Regions from separate parts of the Homo sapiens genome. Here region 1 is linked to region 2. The links come from fine-mapping of genetic effects on gene expression. A gene starts in region 2. The other region holds a variant in brackets. All regions are shown on one strand. Distances are from middle to middle.

Region 1 (2,791 bases), 47 kb before region 2:
GGGGGCAAGAAGTCCCCTCCCCTGCATTCTCAGCCTGGAGCCCAAAGATGTGGCATTCAGAGGCACCTGTTTGGACCATCAAAGCATCTGTGAGGTCTACCAGGCACTTCCATGGCTGGGAAACATCAGTGGCCCCTTCCCCAAGAGGAACACTACAGGCTTCATGAACCACGGGGCCGAAGGGCCCAACCACTCCCTTTAGCCCCTCAGGGTAAGCCCAGCCAGGCTGCTGGGGCATCCACAAGGTCCCAGATGCCACCCAGAGACTTGCTTACCTCCGGGACTAGAGAGCTCACTACCTCATTGAACGTGCATTCCTTTGTGGAGGAGGTCTCATAGCTAGGAAAGGGCTTTCTAGTACTGCTCCGGGGCCACAGCGCATCTGGAGGTGGCAGTCATGACCTTCTGGGCCTCTTTCCTCCAAACCAAGTCTCAGGGCTTCTCCTATCTGTTCCTTGCAAGACCCACCGCAGTGCCCTCTCCTGAACAGGCATCAGTTGTCATTTTCTCCCAGAACTGAGTGTTAGTGCCTAGGTACAGTCTGCAGCCGACTCTCACCTCCCCAGCTATGAATACCATGCTCCTGTTAATTAAGCCCTAGGCGATCTGTGTTTTTTTTTGTTGTTTTTTTTTCTGATTGATCCATCACCCCATTGAGTCTTGCAGGGTGGTGTTGGTCCTTCTGGTGGTAATTGTGAATGAAGCAGGGGGACGACACATCCAGCTTGGGGAAACTGAGGCCCAGAGGGACAAGGCCTGGATCAAAGTTACACAGTTCATGGATGGCAGGGCTCAGGGAAGAGCCCTCCTGACCTCTGCCAGCAGCCTGCCCAGCCAGCACACGGTTCCTCCATCTAGGCCGAAAGATGGGCCTATGTCCATTCTCCCTCCTCCCTCCACCCTTCCCGAGGCCCTCTCAACCCTCAGCCAAGCCAGGGAAGGTAGAACGTGAGCGCCCCGTGGGTCCTCAGATGGTCTTGATTACCGACAGAAGGAGAAAGGCCTTTGCCCTGTGTCCTGCTAACTGTTCCAGGGAATCCAGTGCATCCAGAGGCCTGGGGGCCAAGGTCTCACACAGCTGACCGCGTCCAGCACGTTCTGCAGACTCCGGGTGTTTCCAGAGATCGCTGGGCCTGCACATTCCTTCCTGCTGAGGGAACTCCCCAGCAAGGCAGAGGAGGCGGCCAGCTCCAGGAGGGCCTTGTGGTGGGAAAGGAAAGAGCTTGTGTCCACAGGCGGCTAATGTGCACCAGGTGCTGACGAGTGTCTCTCTTGTGAC[A/G]TGAGAAAGTGGGCGCCACACTCTTCTTCTCTTGCAGAGGAGAATGTGACTTAGAGAGGAGATGATAATGGTGGTCCCCTTCCAGGCTGTTGACAACTGACTTGGTTCATGTGAGAGCTCAGCTCAGAGCCTGGGACCAGTGGGTGTTTACCAGGAATTCTACTGCTGTTGTCCCAAGCCACATGGCTAGGTGGCTGCAGACCAGGGATTTGAACCCGTGTCCAGGAGACAACCCAGGGTGGCTCCTTTGTGGTAAAGGCCACGCTGTTTGGGGATGGTCCTCCCTTCCTGCACTGCCACCAGCCTGATCTCCAACCCAGAGGCTCCCAAGTGGTCACAACCCTGGTTCGAGTGTCCTGAGGACCGGTGGGTGCGAGGCGACAGCCCCTCCCTCCAGTACCGGCTGAGAACGCCTGGCTGTGGGAAGCCGAGGATGACCACCCCTGAACTGGGGTCCCCTTCCCTCCGCCTCCCCCCATTGTCACAGGCCACGTGGGTGTCCTGCGGGCAGGGTTCTGCCACCACCACAGAGGGCTGGCCGGCAGCCCGCAAGTTTCCACCAACTAATAAGTTTTACAAACCTCCAGCCTCATAAAAAAGCTCACAGTGGCCTGAACAACCATGGCCAAGAGTCTTGTGGGAAAGCGGATGGCCTTGAGGCCAGGCAAAGGCGATCTCGGCCAGAGGCCACTTCCTGCCTCTACTCAGACCTTTCCTAAGGCTTCAGACGTGACCATGCCCCTGTGGCCCCCTGGATAAAGACTATGCTCCTCCCTCGAGGGACCGGAAGAGGCCCTCAGCCCCAGCTACCGTGCCCCAGCAGCCCCACGCCCTCCTGCTGCCAGTGAGCTGTCTCTGCACTCCTGCTGCTGAGCGCAGGCCTTTGCGTGGGCCTGAATGCCCTTCCTGTCCCACCATTAGGGACACAGAGATAACTGACACTTCTGTATCCCAGAGGGCCCCCGGGGGACACGGCATGTGATTGGACAGTGATATCACAGGCTCTGACTGGGACCTGAGAGGGAGCAACACGGAGTCCGCATCTGGCTTCTCGTCCGAACGTGGGCCAGGGTAGCAAGGGGGCACCCCGGCTGCAGGAAACAGCAGGCTCCAGGCAGAAGGGTCCATGATGCAAACACGTCCCTGAGCAGCCCGCTGGGGACCGGAGGGGCTGATGTGGAGAGTGCCTGGAGCAGAAGCGAGGGGGCATGGGTGGGGCAGTGGGCTGAAGGAGTGCGTGGGTTGTGGCAGAATTTTCAAGAAGGTGGGAGATGGGGGACACACACGTGGAGGCTGATGCTTTCAGGAGAGAGGGACGTTGGGTTTGTGATTCTGGGGTGGGCCTCTGGGTATGAGCTGGGATTTGGGCACGTAAGAGCCTTGGGCACATGGGGTCTTCAGTGGTAGGAGGATGAGGCCACCAGTAGCATGGCAGGAGGGGAGGGCATGGAGCCAGGACTGGCCCTCAGAGTGGCAGCTTTAGGAGGCAAGGGCAAGAGCCAGGCCTTTGGA
Region 2 (2,791 bases):
TCCCTGGGAGCTCTGCAGAGGAAGAGGGTCTCTGGCAATCAGCATCCTCTACCTCCACCTCTCCAGCGGGCGACCCCTCAGAGAAGGTCTCCCAGTGAGTCTGGAATACGTGCCGAGTGCCTGGAGTGCTATTGTGTGTATGTGAGAGCACATTGGTGAGGCTGCCCATGCATGCCACTGTGGACAAAGACAGATGCGATCGTGTGTGTGTGGGGACTGCGTATATGTTTTTGTCAGTGTGTGTGACCACGAGTCAGCTGGGTATGTGTGCTTGTGGGTATCAGGTGCATGGCTGTGCGTACATGTGTGCGTAAGAGTCGGTGCATTTGTGTTTCAGCGCGGCTAAGGCCCTGACTGAGATGCTGTGTGTGCGGGGGTGGGTGTGACTGAATGCGGGCACGGGTGTCCGTCTGTTTATACGTGTGTTTGCGTGTTTGGGTGTGCAGGTGGCTCTGCGTAAGCGTCTGTGTGCAGGGGGTCGGCACATGGGGGAGGATGCCCATGGTTGGGTAACCGCAGGTCCGCTTGACCCTCTGCCACCTAGGACTGTGTCTATACGGCGTCTGGGCTACAGTGTGTTTGAGTTGCCGTGTGCGTTTCCGTTGCGGGGTGTGGGTTGCCACGGGGCAACTGCATTTTTCTGCGTCTTCATGGCCAGGGGTACAGGGGGCGTCGGGCTTTTCCTGGGGGTTTTTCTGTGTGCGTGTGTAATTATGTGCTTAGTTCACATCTTCATAGTGCGCCTTTGTGTTTTCCTGGGTATCTAACCATTGCACGTGTGCCCGGGACTTCAGCGATAAGTGTTTCGGTGTTCCTGCGTGCGGATTTGTGCTCTCCGGGGAGGTCTGCGGCCCAGGTTCGATTCCTGCGACTTGTCCTAGGCAGGCCTGTATGTGCGCGGCGGCCGCGTGCTGTACAGTGTGAGGGAACGTGTACCAAACGCTCGCGGGATACCTGTGCCCGTCTAGCCAAGAGTGCACCCGTGTGCGCGAGCGGGCTTCTGGGACGCCGCCGTGGTCGGGGGCGGCCCTGCGAGGGGAGGGGGTCACAGGGACTGGCCGGCGCCGGCCCCGTGCGCACGGAGGCGGGGGCGGGGGGCGGGGGCCGCGAGGGGGGAGGCGGTACGAAAAGGGCGGCGCGCGCGGCGGCGGCGGCAGCTCCCCGGCAGCGGCGGTGGAGAGCGCAGCGCGCAGCCCGGTGCAGCCCTGGCTTTCCCCTCGCTGCGCGCCCGCGCCCCCTTTCGCGTCCGCAACCAGAAGCCCAGTGCGGCGCCAGGAGCCGGACCCGCGCCCGCACCGCTCCCGGGACCGCGACCCCGGCCGCCCAGAGATGACCGCGACCGAAGCCCTCCTGCGCGTCCTCTTGCTCCTGCTGGCTTTCGGCCACAGCACCTATGGTGAGTTCCCCGGCGGCCCGGCTCGCGCCCCCTCTGGGGAAGCCTGCGACTCCCCGCCGGCCGCCCGGTGCCCCGCACGCCCCGTCTCGTGAGCCCCAACTCCGCCCGTCCCGCCTAGCCCTAAGCCCCGCGCTGTGCCTGTCTCGCCCTACCCACCACGCTCGCATGCCAAGGCCCGTCCCAGGGGTCCCAGGGCGCAGGGGATGTGTGAGACCCCCAGCCCCTTCCCGCCCTGCAGAAGTGGCGCCAGAGGGGTGTCGGTGCGCTGAGCAAGGAGGTATGGAAAAATGGGGTGCTGTTGTGGAGTCTTCTATGAAAATACTCTGGGGTGCAACTTTGGGGTGTCCCTGTGTGAGCGTTCTGGAACAGGTCTCGGGGCGGGAGTGGGGGACGACTTTGCCGTCTTAGCCCCCAATTCCCAGAGAAGCCCAGCCTGAGCCCTTCCTGCGTGGCGCGTTTCTGTAGGTGAGGGGCTGCGACACTTCTGTCTGCAGCGGCCATCTGTCTCTGACAGCGAGAGAGTTGCCCCCTTCCTGCAGCGCCCCCCCACTCATTGCACCAGTGGTTGTAAGGGGGCTGTCTAGAAAGCTGGGGAGCTGGTTGAGTAAATGCACACAGTAGGTGCCTGTTAAAGTGTCAGAATCTCTAAGCAGTGTTGTTGCAACCTCAGCCCGCTAAGCAAAACCCTGTGTCGTCATCGTTTTTTTAATGCGAAGAGTCTGGGGTAGGGGAAAGAGGGAAGATTTGACCTGGGTGCCCGGCTTAATAGGGATGAACCTTAAAAAGAATGCAGACGCCTTACTGGGGCGCCCACCAGGTGAACCTGTCTGGGCTTTCCCGGAGTTGAACACCTCAAAATCTGCTCCTCTTTTCAGCTCAGGTTGCAAAAGTGACGGTCAGGCTGCATGCCCAGGGCTCAACATATTTCCCTCCACGGTCCCCGTCCCCGCTGTTAGGAGGACTTGAGGTGTCGTATTTGCTTTTGGGAGTCCGAGGAGAAGGTGTTTCTCCTGCTCCTAAGAACGAGGGAGAGTGTACTGTGGTCATTTCATTGCTGGGAACGTGGCAGAGATGTTTTTCCTGAGTGCACTGAGCCCCATCCATGCTCGGATAGGAAGTGCCTACTGTGTGCCAGGCTGGTAGGACCCAAGAGGGCTGTTGGTGCCCTCGAGGGCAGTGGTGGGCTGTGTGGGCGAAGACAGCCTTTGCCTTGGCCTGGGGCCTGGTGGGGTGAATTGTATAACCTTTCTTGTACCTCAGGGGCTGAATGCTTCCCGGCCTGCAACCCCCAAAATGGATTCTGCGAGGATGACAATGTTTGCAGGTAATAGAGTGGCTCCTCAGAGGCAGCTTGTAGGGGCCACGCAGAAGCCTGGGGAGTCGTGAAGTCAGGCA

Direction of the effects. Alleles are on the strand shown, and positions count from the first base shown. SD is a standard deviation of normalised expression in the study named.
For the expression in left ventricle of the gene that starts at base 1,153 in region 2, allele A in region 1 goes with a higher level than allele G (moderate effect, 0.51 SD a copy in GTEx).

Evidence for each region.
Region 1: its variant is fine-mapped to the expression of DLK1 in left ventricle (GTEx, PIP 0.97).

What each region holds. Positions count from the first base shown.
Region 1 is chr14:100,678,797-100,681,587 of GRCh38, forward strand. No RefSeq gene overlaps it. Among named protein-coding and RNA genes, the nearest start is that of LINC00523, 23 kb to the left of the region's middle. RefSeq lists enhancers at 540-1,133, 1,728-2,321. The variant A/G (reference allele first, on the strand shown) is at 1,280.
Region 2 is chr14:100,725,740-100,728,530 of GRCh38, forward strand. It overlaps DLK1 (delta like non-canonical Notch ligand 1), which reads left to right and starts at 1,153. Exons shown (of 5, transcript NM_003836.7): 1 at 1,153-1,396; 2 at 2,657-2,720. The coding sequence starts at 1,330.